Homo sapiens: one gene and its partner. The protein of the gene in region 1 interacts with the protein of each later gene in a pairwise test. Each region holds a gene or a part of one and is shown in the gene's direction. Other genes may lie near its edges.

Evidence for each region.
Region 2: the proteins of WDR81 (region 1) and WDR91 interact in binary tests that used the Homo sapiens proteins (3 or more experiments, as listed by UniProt).

What each region holds. Positions count from the first base shown.
Region 1 is NC_000017.11:1,720,117-1,727,703, forward strand, and holds the start of WDR81 (WD repeat-containing protein 81), read left to right. Parts: upstream 1-4,587; 5' UTR 4,588-4,843; coding exon 4,844-7,587. UniProt on the Homo sapiens protein: Functions as a negative regulator of the PI3 kinase/PI3K activity associated with endosomal membranes via BECN1, a core subunit of the PI3K complex.
Region 2 is NC_000007.14:135,194,527-135,201,526, reverse strand, and holds part of WDR91 (WD repeat-containing protein 91), read left to right. Parts: intron 1-3,375; coding exon 3,376-3,534; intron 3,535-4,407; coding exon of another isoform or gene 4,408-4,483; intron 4,484-5,189; coding exon 5,190-5,383; intron 5,384-6,442; coding exon 6,443-6,593; intron 6,594-6,900; coding exon of another isoform or gene 6,901-6,957; intron 6,958-7,000.

The sequences.
Region 1 (7,587 bases):
AGCTGGTGCACTACTTTTCTCCCTGCCGGATTAGCAAGAGCTGACCCCGCTCAACATGGGCTGACTGGTGGGGCAGCTGCAGCCTCTGTCCCTGACTATCCAAGACATGACCTCCCGGAAACCCAATACTGAGGCTGGCCAAGGGGAGCGGCTAATTTGGTCTGAGATTCCCCAGAGCCCAAAGGTGCTTGCATTGGGATTCAGGGAACACGCTTACTGGGGGCAGTGAGAGGGAAATTCCGGAAGAGAGCTGTTACAGACGTTACTTCTCAAGACATAGCCTGAAGGTTGCTGCATCAGAATTACCTCGCGTACTTGTTAAACATTTAGATAGCTGTATCTCACTCCAGACTCCTGAATTAGAATTATGCCCTAAAGGGCCGGGCATGGTGGCTCACGCCTGTAATTCCAGCACTTTGGGAGGCGGAGGCGGGCGGATCATCTGAGGTCAGGAATTTGAGACCAGCCTGGCCAACATGGTGAAACCCCATCTCTACTAAAAATACAAAAGTTAGCCAGGCGCCTGTAATCCCAGGTACTCGGGAGGCTGAGGCAGGAGAATTGCTTGAACCTGGGCGGTGAAGGTTGCAGTGAGCCGAGATCGTGCCACAGCACTCCAGCCTGGGCGACAGAGTCAGACTCCGTATCAAGAAAAAAAAAAAAAAAAGAATTATGCCCTAAAATTTGAAAACTACTGCCCTAGGGCTCAGATTGGGCCAGGGTTTGAGGCCCCAGGAATCCCAGTGCGCCAGTTCCCAATATTGCTAGGACATCTCTATTCTCGGGAGGAAAGGAGAATTTCAAGAGGTAAAATTAGGTACACTCAAGGTCACTGCTGCAGTGTAACCCCAGTACCGCTAGAGGGCAGGGCACACACAGACTTGCAGACAGAAAAAGTAGTACCTGCTCAATCTAGGTAAACTGAGACCAGCGCAAAGAACAGGTGGACCCAGCCAGCTCTATTGGTACTAAGAAGCAAGCACTACCTTCTAACCATCAAAACATATCCTCTGATTTCAGGTATTTATATCAAAGTTGGGGCTGGGCACTGTGGCTCACGACTGTAATCCCAGCTCTACTAAAAATATAAAATTTAGCTAGGCGTGGTAGCAGGCACCTATAATCCCAGCTACTCGGGATGCTGAGGCAGGAGAATCACTTGAACCCGGGAGGCGGAGGTTGTGGTGAGTCAAGATGGTGCCATTGCACTCCAGCCTGGGCAACAAGAGCGAAACTTTGTCTCGAAAAAAAAAATTAGCTGGGCTTGGTGACGCTGCCTGTAGTCTCAACTACTCGGGAGGCTGAGGTGGGAGGATCACCTGAGCCTGGGGAGGTCGAGGCTGCAGTCAGCTGTGACAAATCACTGCACTGCAGCCTGGGTGACAGAGTGAGACCCTGTGTCAAAAAAAATAAATAAAAAATCACTCGGGCACCATGGCTCACACCTGTAATCCCAGCATTTTGAGAGGCCGAGATGGGCCGATTGCTTGAGCCCAGGAGTTCAAGACCAGCCTGGGAAACATGGCAAAACCTGGTTACTACAAAAATACAAAAAATTAGCTGGATGTGGTGGCACATTCCTGTAGTCCCAGCTACTCAGGAGGCTGAGGTGGGAAGTTCACCTGAGCCTGGAAGGTCGAGGCTGCAGGGAGCCAAGATCACACTACTGCATTCTAGCCTGGGCAACAGAGTGAGACTCTGTCTTAAAAAAAAAAAAAAAAATCAGGCCGGGCACGGTGGCTCACACCTGTAATCCCAGCACTTTGGAAGGCCAAGGCAGGCAGATCACCTGAGGTCGGGAGTTTGAGACCAGCCTGACCAACATGGAGAAACCCTGTCTCTACTAAAATACAAAAATTAGCCGGGCATGGTGGCACATGACTGTAATCCCAGCTACTAGGGAGGCTGAGGCAGGAGAATCGCTTGAACCCGGGAGGCGGAGATTGCGGTGAGCTGAGATCGCGCCATTGCACTCCAGCCTGGGCAACAAGAGCGAAACTCTGTCTTAAAAAAAAAAATCTTCTTAAAAGGGGTGGTGAGGATTACACAAAACAGGGTATGCAAAATGCTTAACAGATGACTAGCTCCTGGTAATGCTCCATACAAGTTTGTTGTAAGTTACTACTGCCCAGGATCATATGACCAAGCACATGAGAGGCTCCAGCTACCCTTCAAGGAAGAGGAGACAGATGAAATCAGATCATGGCTGAGACATTCCTGTTTTCTCTCTCTTTTTTTTTTTTTTTTTGAGATGGAGTCTCACTCTGTTGCCCAGGCTGGAGTGCAGTGGCGCTATCTTGGCTCACTGCAACCTCTGCCTCCTGGGTTCAAGCGATTCTCCTGCCTCAGCCTCCCAAGTAGCTGGAATTAGAGGCGTCCGCCACCACACCTGGCTAATTTTTGTATTTTAGTAGAGATGGGGTTTCTCCATGTTGGTCAGGCTGGTCTTGAACTCCTGACCTCAGGTGATCTGCCCATCTCAGCCTCCCAAAGTGCTGGGTTACAGGCATGAGCCACCGCACCCGGCCCTCCTATTTTCTCTCCTATCAGGCCTAGTTTTCTTTTCTTTTCTTTCTTTCTTTTTTTTTTTTTTTGAGACGGAGTCTCACTCTGCCACCCAGGCTGGAGTGCAGTGGTGTGATCTCAGCTCACTGCAACCTCCGCCTCCCAGGTTCAAGCGATTCTCCTGCCTCAGCCTCCTGAGTAGCTGGGATTACAGGCACCCGCTGCCACACCCGGCTAATTTTTTTGTGTTTTTAGTAGAGATGGAGTTTCCCCAAGTTGGCCGGGCTGGTCTTGAACTCCTGACCTCATGATCCGCCCACCTTGGCCTCCCAAAGTGCTGGGATTACAGGTGTGAACCACCGTGACCGGCCAAGGCCTAGTTTTCCTAAGTGTCTTTATGGGACCCTCACACCTGTACACCAAACTCCTTCAAGAGGCAAACTCTCTCCTAAGAGGGAGACAAAAGAAACAGGGCCAGTGGTTTCACTGTAGACAATGGTCTATCTGTCCTGCAGATGAGTCAGAACTAAGACCCCTTGAGGAATCATGTTGCTTTGGTGCCGGCTGTCTGGTTTCTATTCCATATCCTGTGCCGCACCCTTCCCCCAGCCACAGTGACATCTGGAGGCTCTGACCACAGCTGGCAGGCTCTGTGGTACCGCAGAGGCCAATCTTCAACAGGAAGTCTTGGGGGAACATTTCTTCCCCCAAAACACCAGGCCTCTGGGCCTGGGCCACTTCTCTCCCTCAGACAGCCCAGGGTTTCGTTTTATTTTTATTTTATTTTATTTATTTATTTTTATTTATTTATTTGGTTTTATTTTTATTTATTTATTTTTATTTATTTATTTATTTATTTATTTATTTATTTATTTATTCTTTTTGACGGAGTCTCGCTCTGTTGCCCAGGTTGGAGTACAGTGGCGCCATCTCGGCTCACTGCAAGCTCTGCCTCCTGGGTTCATGCCATTCTCCTGCCTCAGCTTCCCAAGTAGCTGGGACTACAGGCGCCCCCCACCACGGCCAGGTAATTTTTTGTGTTTTTAGTAGAGACGGGGTTTCACCGTGTTAGCCAGGATGGTCTCGATCTCCTGACCTCGTGATCCAGCTGCCTCAGCCTCCCAAAGTGCTGGGATTACAGGCGTGAGCCACTGCACCCGGCCAGTTTTGTTTTTTAAAAAGCCGTGAGAGGGCTGTCAGGAGGCAGTGCTCCTGGGCAGAAAGAAGGCTGGCACCAGTTTCTAAGTCTCCATTCCGCCAGGCGGACAAGCCTCTCTGGCGGTTGTTGGTTATCACTTGTAAAATATAAACAGTAATAACTGTCCTCCCTACCTCACAGAGTGTGTTGCGAGGGCCAAATGGAATGTGACTGTTGAAGTACTTAGGAAAGTTAAAAAGCTCCTTCCTATGGAAGGTGGCATGGAGGCGCCGGGGGGATTCCATGTCAAAAGTCCCAGTTCTGGCCGGGCGCGGTGGCTCACGCCTGTCATCCCAGCACCTTGGGAGGCCGAGACGGGTGGATCACGAGGCCAGGAGTTCGAGATCAGCCTGGCCAACAAGGCGAAACCCCATCTCTACTAAAAAATACAAAAATTAGCCGGGCGTGGTGGCGCGCTCCTGACGTCCCAGCTACTCGGGAGGCCGAGGCAAGAGAATCGCTTGAACCCGGGAGGCAGAGGTTGCGGTGAGCCGAGATCGCGCCACTGCACTCCAGCCTGGGCGACAGAGCAAGACTCCGTCTCAAAAATAGACACAACAGAAGTCCCAGTTCTGCCCCTGGTTGTGCGGTCCGCACTTAACTAAGAGGCTGGCATCTCTGGGAACAGCCTCCGGGACCCGCGCGCTGGTGCGTGCTGGAGGGAGTAGGGAGGGGTGGGGCGGTAGGCATCGCCCTCCGCCGGGCCCGGCTGGAGCTGGCTGGAGACCCTTTCAGCCCCGGGAGGAAGCGGAGCCCAGACCGAGCCAGAGCGGAGCAGCGGGAGGGAGGGCGGGGAGGCCGCCGGGCAGGAAGCGGGGTCCCGCCCGGGCCTCTGGAGCCACGTGCGCTTGTTTCCGTGCTGGGGCGATCACGTGACCCGCGTCAGCTGACCCGTCACGGTGGAGCCCGGTGCTCGCGCCCGGCAGCCTCTGCCCCGCCGCGCCCGGAGCGCAGGACCCGCGGAGGGGTAAGCGCGCCCCCCGTCCGCCTCTTCGCCGCCGCCGGCTTCCTGCGGCCGCCTCCGCCCCAGCCCCTGTCCCGCGCCCATCCCAGCCCCGCCGGCCTGGCACCCCGGAAGCCGTCGCCAGCAGGGCCGTGGCTGGGCTCAGCCCCGCGCTGCCCCCGGGCGGCCTGGAGGAGATGGCCCAGGGCAGCGGGGGGCGGGAAGGCGCTCTCAGAACCCCGGCCGGGGGCTGGCATTCCCCGCCAAGCCCAGACATGCAGGAGCTGCTCCGGAGCGTGGAGAGGGACCTGAGCATCGATCCCAGGCAGCTGGCTCCGGCCCCGGGGGGCACCCACGTGGTGGCCCTAGTGCCTGCGCGCTGGCTGGCCAGCCTCCGCGATCGCCGGCTGCCCCTGGGACCCTGTCCCCGCGCAGAGGGCCTGGGAGAAGCGGAAGTCAGGACTCTCCTGCAGCGCTCTGTGCAAAGGCTGCCTGCCGGCTGGACGCGCGTGGAGGTGCATGGGCTGCGGAAGCGGAGACTGTCCTACCCTCTGGGCGGGGGCCTGCCCTTTGAGGACGGGTCCTGCGGCCCTGAGACCCTCACTCGCTTCATGCAGGAGGTTGCCGCCCAGAATTATCGCAACCTGTGGCGCCATGCATACCACACTTACGGCCAGCCGTACAGTCACAGCCCTGCCCCCTCAGCTGTCCCTGCCTTGGACTCAGTACGGCAGGCTCTGCAGAGGGTCTATGGTTGCTCCTTCCTGCCAGTGGGTGAAACTACCCAATGCCCTTCATATGCCAGAGAAGGCCCCTGCCCCCCTCGGGGCAGCCCTGCTTGCCCTAGTCTTTTACGGGCTGAGGCCTTGCTGGAGTCGCCGGAGATGCTGTATGTGGTACACCCTTACGTACAGTTCTCCCTACATGACGTGGTCACCTTCAGCCCTGCCAAGCTGACCAACAGCCAGGCCAAGGTGCTGTTCATTCTCTTCCGCGTGCTGAGGGCTATGGACGCCTGTCACCGCCAGGGGCTGGCGTGTGGGGCCCTGTCTTTGTATCACATCGCAGTGGATGAGAAGCTTTGCAGCGAGCTGCGACTGGACCTGAGTGCTTATGAGAGGCCCGAGGAGGACGAGAATGAGGAGGCCCCTGTGGCAAGGGATGAGGCGGGCATTGTGTCTCAAGAGGAGCAGGGAGGGCAACCTGGGCAACCCACTGGCCAGGAGGAACTTCGGAGCCTCGTGCTAGATTGGGTCCACGGCCGCATCAGCAACTTCCACTACCTCATGCAGCTGAATCGGTTGGCAGGTCGGCGGCAGGGGGACCCCAACTACCACCCCGTGCTGCCCTGGGTGGTGGACTTCACTACGCCCCATGGGCGCTTCCGAGACCTGCGCAAGTCCAAGTTCCGCCTCAACAAGGGGGATAAGCAACTGGACTTCACGTATGAGATGACACGGCAGGCATTCGTAGCAGGCGGGGCGGGCGGCGGGGAACCCCCTCATGTTCCCCACCACATCTCAGACGTGCTCTCCGACATCACGTACTATGTGTACAAGGCTCGGCGCACGCCTCGGTCGGTGCTCTGCGGACACGTCCGCGCGCAGTGGGAGCCCCATGAGTATCCGGCCAGCATGGAGCGGATGCAGAACTGGACCCCGGATGAGTGCATTCCGGAGTTCTACACCGATCCCTCTATCTTCCGCTCCATCCACCCCGACATGCCTGACCTGGATGTGCCAGCCTGGTGCAGCTCCAGCCAGGAGTTCGTAGCTGCCCACCGAGCCCTGCTGGAGAGCCGCGAGGTATCCCGGGACCTGCACCATTGGATCGACCTCACGTTTGGCTATAAACTCCAGGGTAAGGAGGCTGTCAAGGAAAAGAATGTGTGTCTGCACCTGGTGGACGCCCACACTCACCTGGCCAGCTACGGGGTGGTGCAGCTCTTCGATCAGCCACACCCCCAGCGCCTGGCTGGGGCTCCTGCCCTTGCCCCCGAGCCTCCCCTCATCCCCAAGCTGTTGGTCCAGACCATCCAGGAGACCACAGGCCGGGAGGACTTCACGGAAAACCCGGGACAGCTTCCAAATGGAGTGGGCCGGCCAGTTTTAGAGGCCACTCCCTGTGAGGCTAGCTGGACCAGAGACAGGCCGGTGGCAGGAGAAGACGACTTGGAACAGGCCACAGAAGCTCTGGATTCCATTTCCCTTGCTGGGAAAGCAGGTGACCAGCTGGGCTCCTCCAGTCAAGCGTCCCCTGGACTTCTCTCTTTCTCAGTGGCCTCAGCCTCCCGTCCAGGCCGCAGGAATAAAGCTGCTGGGGCAGACCCTGGGGAGGGTGAGGAGGGGAGGATTCTTCTTCCCGAGGGCTTCAATCCCATGCAGGCCCTGGAGGAGCTGGAGAAAACGGGCAACTTCTTGGCCAAAGGCCTAGGGGGCCTGTTGGAGGTGCCTGAGCAGCCCCGGGTCCAGCCGGCTGTGCCACTGCAGTGCCTACTCCACAGGGACATGCAGGCGCTGGGTGTCCTATTGGCAGAGATGGTGTTTGCCACCAGGGTGCGGACGCTGCAGCCCGATGCACCTTTGTGGGTACGCTTCCAGGCTGTCCGAGGGCTCTGCACGCGCCACCCCAAGGAGGTCCCTGTGTCTTTGCAGCCCGTGCTGGACACACTCCTGCAGATGAGTGGCCCCGAAGTCCCCATGGGAGCAGAGAGGGGCAAGCTGGACCAACTGTTTGAGTACAGGCCTGTCTCCCAGGGCCTGCCCCCACCCTGCCCAAGCCAGCTTCTCAGCCCCTTCAGCTCCGTGGTTCCCTTCCCACCCTACTTCCCGGCACTGCACAGATTCATCCTCCTGTACCAGGCAAGGCGTGTGGAGGACGAGGCCCAGGGGCGCGAGCTGGTGTTTGCTCTGTGGCAGCAGCTGGGCGCGGTGCTGAAGGA
Region 2 (7,000 bases), on another chromosome or scaffold:
AATTGGTTGCTGTACCTGTTGTCATTATTACTGAAACGTTCATAGCATTATTCCTGTAAAATAGATGGCAAAACAGATGCAAAATAGATTGCTTTTGTATTGAAAGCCTGGCAGATACTCTCCAGGCTTTCAATATGAGTCTGGAGGCAATTTTTTTTTTTTTTTTTTTTTTAGTGGAAATAACTGCGAAACCACACTTCCCAAGCCCTTCTAGGATCTCTAATTACAATAGCCGGGAGGGCACATCCATAGCAGGCTTGCCTGGGCTGCTGCTTGGCTCACACAGCCTGTAGTTTGTACTCCATCCTTCCCACCAGCAAGAATTCTGCTCCTTTCACACCCACTTGGTGAGCCATGGAAATTACCTCATTATAGAGATAACTTTTAATCGGCTGTAATGTAAGGCACCAAAGCATCCACAAACTTCTGTGCTTGTGACTGTTATTAGTGTCAAATTACCTCCCAGTTACTGAGAAGTAAGTGGTCACAACCACTGCCCTGAAGGTTTTCCCCAAGGATCTTGGCAGTAAGGAGAAAGCCTGTCTTTCATTCTGGGATTTCTGTGTTATGAGGGCGTGTTTTCTGGGTAGCTTTGTTTAGCTTCAGGTGAGACCAAATTACTGGAAGTTGTTTGCTGCTCCATTTGGATGGCTGCCATCCTGGTAAGCTCTGTGAGGCTCTGGAATCCCTCATGACCTACTCATTCCACCGGAAATTAATGGGTATCAACTTATGTCTGTCTCCAGAGTGAGAAGGTCAAATGATAAGACAGAGGTTACCGTGTCTCTCCTGAACTGTAGCAGTCAGGTAGATTATGATAGAATATACTTTAGACTATTGGGATATTCTGTTATTTGAAGCCAGCAGTTAAAGACTATTATGAGGGTTGCACTTAAAATGAAATAAAACTTTCAATGAACAGTTATTTCATCTGTCCATCAGTCCATCCATTTGTTATTTAGCCAGTCATGAATGAGTGCCCAGCTTATGCGAGGCGTGGTGCTGGGTGCTAAGGTTACAAAGATGTGTAAGGTAGGGTCACAGTAGAAGAAGCTTCCAGAAGGGTGCAAGCTTCTCTGTGTGCAAGTGTCATTGTCTAGAGAGTACACAGTTCTGCCGGCATCTTTCACTCTCTCCAGCTCTTTACCCATACACAAGTGCTTGGCCAGAGTTTTATGGATTTGTTTGAAGGTAATTACTTACATAGCATTGTGACTTTACCCCTTTTTCCTTTGTTTTTATTTTTTAGCCTTTTATTTCTAAAAAATTAACAGTTGCCAGTAAGCATTCACTTGTTTTGTACATTTGTGGCTAGACACAAATTGGCCTTCACCTACTTATTAAAAAGTTTTGTGGACAACCGCATTCACCAGCTTTTAATATATTATTATCTTTTGTTATTCAGTGATTAACATAGATTTAAGGAGAAAGGAGAACCTATCCTCTTCTTTAAAGCAAAATCTGATAGGTCATGCTTAGGTCCATCACTGTCTTGGCGTAAACTGCCCTATCATTGTAAAGGTAGTTCTTCTCTGTACCAGATGCCTTCCTTGCTATCTTGACTTGTGAGGGAAGTATTACCTTTGTACTTCTCAGTGTTTTATTGTTTGCTCCTGCTGGGGAAGTGTTACAAGTGGCTTTCAAATAAGCCAGAGGAATTCGAAGCCTCCTCCTTCCATCAATATTCACCAATTGATTGAGCACTCTTTACTGTTGCTGAAAAAGGAAAAGACACCATTATCCAGTGGAGGGGCTGAATAAGGCAGGAAGGGGCCCATAAAGTGCCTGTCTCCCTCTGTAACAGTTCCCACCTTTGCTTCCAAGGCAGAATCCCCCTGTGACCCATGTAGAGCACGGCATACATGTAGCAGCACAAAATGTGGAAGCGGCACCTCCTGGACTGTGATGTGGCTGCTCAGTGTTTGCATTTTCAGTGATTTCTTCTTACGGGGGTTTCAGAGCCTTGTCTTGAAACAGGACACGACACAACTGCCTACCACCTCCCCAGATCTTAGCCTTGACAGCCAACTCCAACAGGCCACCTCCCCACTCCATCTCTCTGAAACTCTGAGGAGTGGACATTACCTCTCCGTGGCTTTTGTCCTCCCAGGACCCATACACAATTGTTATTGACACAATTCTGATACTTGGAATTAAATGTGTTTGTGGCTGATTGAGACAGGTTTACCATCCTTTCTTTGTTCACGGAAGTACTTGAAGTTTATAAACAGGCCAAAAATAGTAAATACCCTGCAGGTTAGTCATGGTTTGGTTCCAGGTAAGCTAATAGTCCTTTAAAATTTTCTTTTAACTGTTCACATGGCTGCAGGATTCCAAGGAATCCATGTTAATCATTTTAAATTATTTACTGTTGACATAAAAAATAACAAGTAGAAGAACTGGAAAGCAGCAGGTAGACTTTGGTTGAGTTTCTTCTCTTCACTTAGGGCTTGTGTAGAAATGGTTTCTTGAGAAGATTGGTCTCAAACCTGAGTAGCTGTTTGCATTCATATCTCTTTGCTAAGAGTGTAAAAAATGAGGGTGAGGGTGTTTGGCCATCACAATTTGTGGGTAAAAAGCTGGAAAAAGAGAGCCCTGCCCAGCAATCTGGAAAGATGTGGGGGTGGCAGCTCCTTTTAAGAGTTTCTAGATTAAGAATGGAGACTTCTTCTCTCTATACAGGTGGGGTGGGGATGATCAAATTCATCCCCTCTTGCTATAACTTAGCTGACCCTATCACTGTTGTTATGAAAAGGAGCCAGAAAATACCGGTTTATTTCCTGTCCGATTTATCTTTCTTAACATTCCTTGGGTTTTCAACAATTTCTGTTAAAAATTTCTGGTTTTCTAGTAATCATTTTCAAACACCTCAGTATTTGTTAATATTAGCTGGTTTAGTCCACACTTGGCCCAAAACAAGAGAGGGTACTGTGTTCCTTTTCCTTTTCCCTCCAGAGGTGATTGCTTGTTGCATAAATAATTTTTAGATTGCCCAAACATATTGTTGCTTGTAAATGTGTATAACACCAAGCGTAGGCCCCGGCCTGCCTTAGTCATCACTTAGTAAGTGCTGGCTCCTTCCCCTCAACTAGACTAAATTGTTCCGATTAGATCAAGATGACATCTTCCTCCAGATGAGAGATACCGCAGGATGAGGATTGCAGGTGACCTGTCCTCTTAACGGGTAGAGGACAGAAAGGAGGAGGTCATAGCAGGGGCTGACTATGACCTCACCTACATAGCTGAGCCAACACCATTTTAACCACCTGCCCCCAACCCACCACGCCCCCCCGCCCAGGGCTGACCACTCCTGGCATGCTTATCATGGCCTGGGCAGATGGGAAGAGACTTCACAGCCAGCTTCTTTTCCTCTAGGGCACCAAGGGAAAGGACCCGACGTCCGGAGCCAAGGATGGGAAGAGCCTCCTCAGCGGGCTGGCCACTGGGGAGTCCGGTTGGTCACAGCACCGGCAGCGGCGCCTGCAGGACCATGGCAAGGAGAGGAAGGAGCTTTTCTCCACAACCACTTCCCAGGTATGGGGTTGTCCTGAACACCCCTGGGGACACTCATGCAGCTACTGAGGAACACTGTGGGGGGTCTTCTCTTCTCTCTCTTCTGAGTTCTGCAGCTGTGCAGAGTGTGCTTTTGCTTAATTGGTTTCAATGGCTTGTATTTTGGTTATTTGGGTTCATCATTTGCCTGGCTTTTCTGTGGTCCATTTCTCCCATGCAGCATTTCCCTAAGTAGGGGCCAGAAAATGCAGGCCTCTAGAAGTGCTCTCAGAAGATGACTTCTGTGATTAAGCTGGCTTGGGAACCTTTGCATACTCATCCTTCCCTTAGGTTAATTGTGCTAAGCAGCCTGTGGTGGGCTCCTGGAGACCTGGTTCCCTCGGTTTCACCCAGTCACCCAGACTTGCTTGGTCACAGGATTCCTTTCTCCTGTGCTGCCTGAGGCCCAGCTGCCTGTATTGCTGCACTGAGGGCCATGTGCCCACACAGTGGGAGGCTGTGGCCCAGGCCCTTCTGTACTGAGCCCTGGGCTCTGGGGACTCCCCTCACTGGCCAGTGTGGGCCACAGCCTGCTCTTTGTGGCATTACAGCTGCTTCTGTTTCTGCCAGATACTCCCGACTGATGGCAAAGTCTAAGGTATTTACTGGTTCTCTTGCCCAAGTCACTGTCTTCACCATTTATCTCATAATTGGGGCTATTTGCCTGTTTTAAAGGTATTTCCTCATTAACAGCCTGGTACTGTGGTGACAACAGACCCCTAAGGCTCAGATCATAAGTTCTGGCATTTCAGGATTCAAGATGCACTTGGGGGCCACCCAGAGCCCCATAATGTCTGAAGTTCCTCTGTTATTTTTTTTTATTGTTGAACTCCTCCTCCTGCCTCTCTGAGGAAGCACTTGCAGGAGCATCCGGACCCCAGGGCTGGTAGAGAGTGCCCTGGCCGATGCCCCCAGCCTGGATTGTGTCTAGGTGAGCACCAGATGGTAGCCAACACCTGCTGTCCCAGGGACGTAGAGATGGGGCAGCCTTGGACCCCCAGTGGCCCTTGGGTCTCTGTCTTTCTTCCTGGCCAGTTGTGTCTGTTTCTTAGTTTCTCAGTGCCCACCTCCCAGGAGGGCTGGTGGGCCTAGGGGTGCACTGGAAAGGGGCCGGGCTTACCTCTTACCCACCCAGCTTCACATCCAATTTCTCCCCCTTGCCAGCCATATGACTTTGGGCAAGGGATTTGGCTTCTCTTTCAGTCTTTTAGTTTCCACAGCTGTAAAATGGGGAAGATAATAGCATCTCATTGTTTGAGGAGGACTAAATGAGAGAAATCTGTAAAATACTCAGCGCGGTGTGTGGCCTGCACCACGCATCCTCCGCCTGGCCTGTTGTCAAGGCAGATGTGTGTCCTGGGTCCCATCAGCTGTGTCACAGAGAGGCCACAGCCCCCTCTCCTTCAGCAGGGCCTGTGTGGAGCAAAGTCTCCAGGAAGGGGCTGTCAGGAGGGCAGGCCCTGCACTCTCCCAGGGTGAGCTGAGCACTACCCTCGCAGGTCAGAGCTCTCCTCTCCACTCTGTAATTACCGAGAACCCCGCAAAATGCTGCAGCCTAGGCCTAGACCCCCTGCGGTGTACACCCTGGTGTGGGGGACCCTTTCCTGGCTGACTTGTCCCCACCCTGCTTGTGACAGTGTGCAGAGAAGAAACCAGAAGCCAGTGGCCCAGAGGCTGAGCCCTGCCCAGAGCTCCACACGGAGCCAGTGGAGCCACTGACTCGGGCATCCTCGGCAGGCCCTGAGGGTGGAGGAGTCCGCCCCGAGCAGCCCTTTATTGTGCTGGGACAGGAGGAGTACGGGGAACACCACTCATCCATCATGCACTGCAGGTGGGTTGGGCCTGGGGCCAAGGAAACCCTGGGAAGCTCAGATTTTCAGGCAGTACACGTGGAGGTGTGGCCAGCAGGAGATGGCGGAGAATGGGGGCTTGGACGAGGGCCACAGTCATGGCAGTAGAGTCATGGGAGTCGGTTGGAGCTGCCAGTGGACTGGTCAGCCTGTCTGCCCTTTTTTTTTTTTCCTTATTGAGACAGAGTCTTGCTCTGTCACCTAGGCTGGAGTGCAGTGGCACGATCTTGGCTCACTGCAACCTTGCCCTCCCAGGCTCAAGCGATTCTCGTGCCTCAGCCTCCCAAGTAGCTGGAATTACAGATGCCTGCCACCACACCCATCTGATTTTTATATTTGTAGTAGAGACGGGGTTTCACCATGTTGGCCAGGCTGGTCTTGAACTCCTGGCTTCAAGTGATCTGCCCATCTCAGCCTCCCACAGTGCTGGGATTACAGGCGTAAGCCACCGCACCGGGCCTCTCTGCCCTTTCTAATTGTGTTTCTCTCAGTTTTAGGAACAAGTTACACTTTATTTTAGCCCCCCAAACTCACTCAATTTTAATTTGCTTTATGATGGTACTTTTAGGTAAATACCTGATTTGTAATTTACCATTTGTAAGTTTTTACTTAAGCACAGTATAAACCTTTCAAGAACAAACCCTGGTGGGGCATAATTTTCAGCTGTAGATGGGTTTCTCGTTTTGACAGCCCTGATGGCTCTTGGGGCCCTTGGGCTGTTCTGGAGTGTGAGTTGGAGGCTCTAAATCTCCAGAGACTGCAAATGGCCTCAGGGCAGGGCCCTGCAACTCTTGCTCACGGCTCTTTGCCCAGAATTGACCAAAAGCTCCGCACATGGTTGGCACTTAATAAGTATTTCTTAGACAAACGAATGAATGAATATTTCTAGAAATAGTCTATACCAGTCCTTTGAATGTAGACCTCTAGGGATTGTTTTTTTAAAACAGTAAGGAAGTCAGGAAAGTGATCATCTTGGCATTAGCAGAAGAGGATGGGGACTGAGAGGCCAGCTGACAGGCCTCCCTTTTCTCTCATCTCAGAGTGGACTGCTCTGGGAGGAGAGTCGCCAGCTTAGACGTAGATGGGGTCATCAAAGTGTGGTCCTTCAACCCCATCATGCAGACCAAAGCATCCTCCATTTCCAAATCACCGCTGCTGTCTTTGGAATGGGCCACCAAACGGGACAGACTGGTGAGTAATGGTGGCCTGTGGGGCCCGCTTTGCTGGCTCAGTGGAGGAATTCCCCAGGGTTCTCCACCGGCTGAGTCAAGACAGCCAAGCCAGTTCCCCTCCCTTCTCTCCATTATTGGGGATTCAGGGACACACATCCAGGACTGGCCCAGAAGGCTCCTGTTGTGGGAAGACAGGGAGGTTACCAGATTGACAGATGGAAATGAGCTGCAGGGGGCCTGGAACACACGGCTTCTTCCTGTTTGTGGTGGTCCGCCCTGGGGACCACCTGCCTGACTGCTGTCCCTCCATTTGTCTGTGTTTCCAGCTGCAGTTTCAGTGGGCGCCCTCCCGTGCCAGGCCCCACGGGAAGTGGCTTCCGCTGGTGAGGGGCTGGTGTTCTATTTTGTGGTTCCCATGGGTCTTAT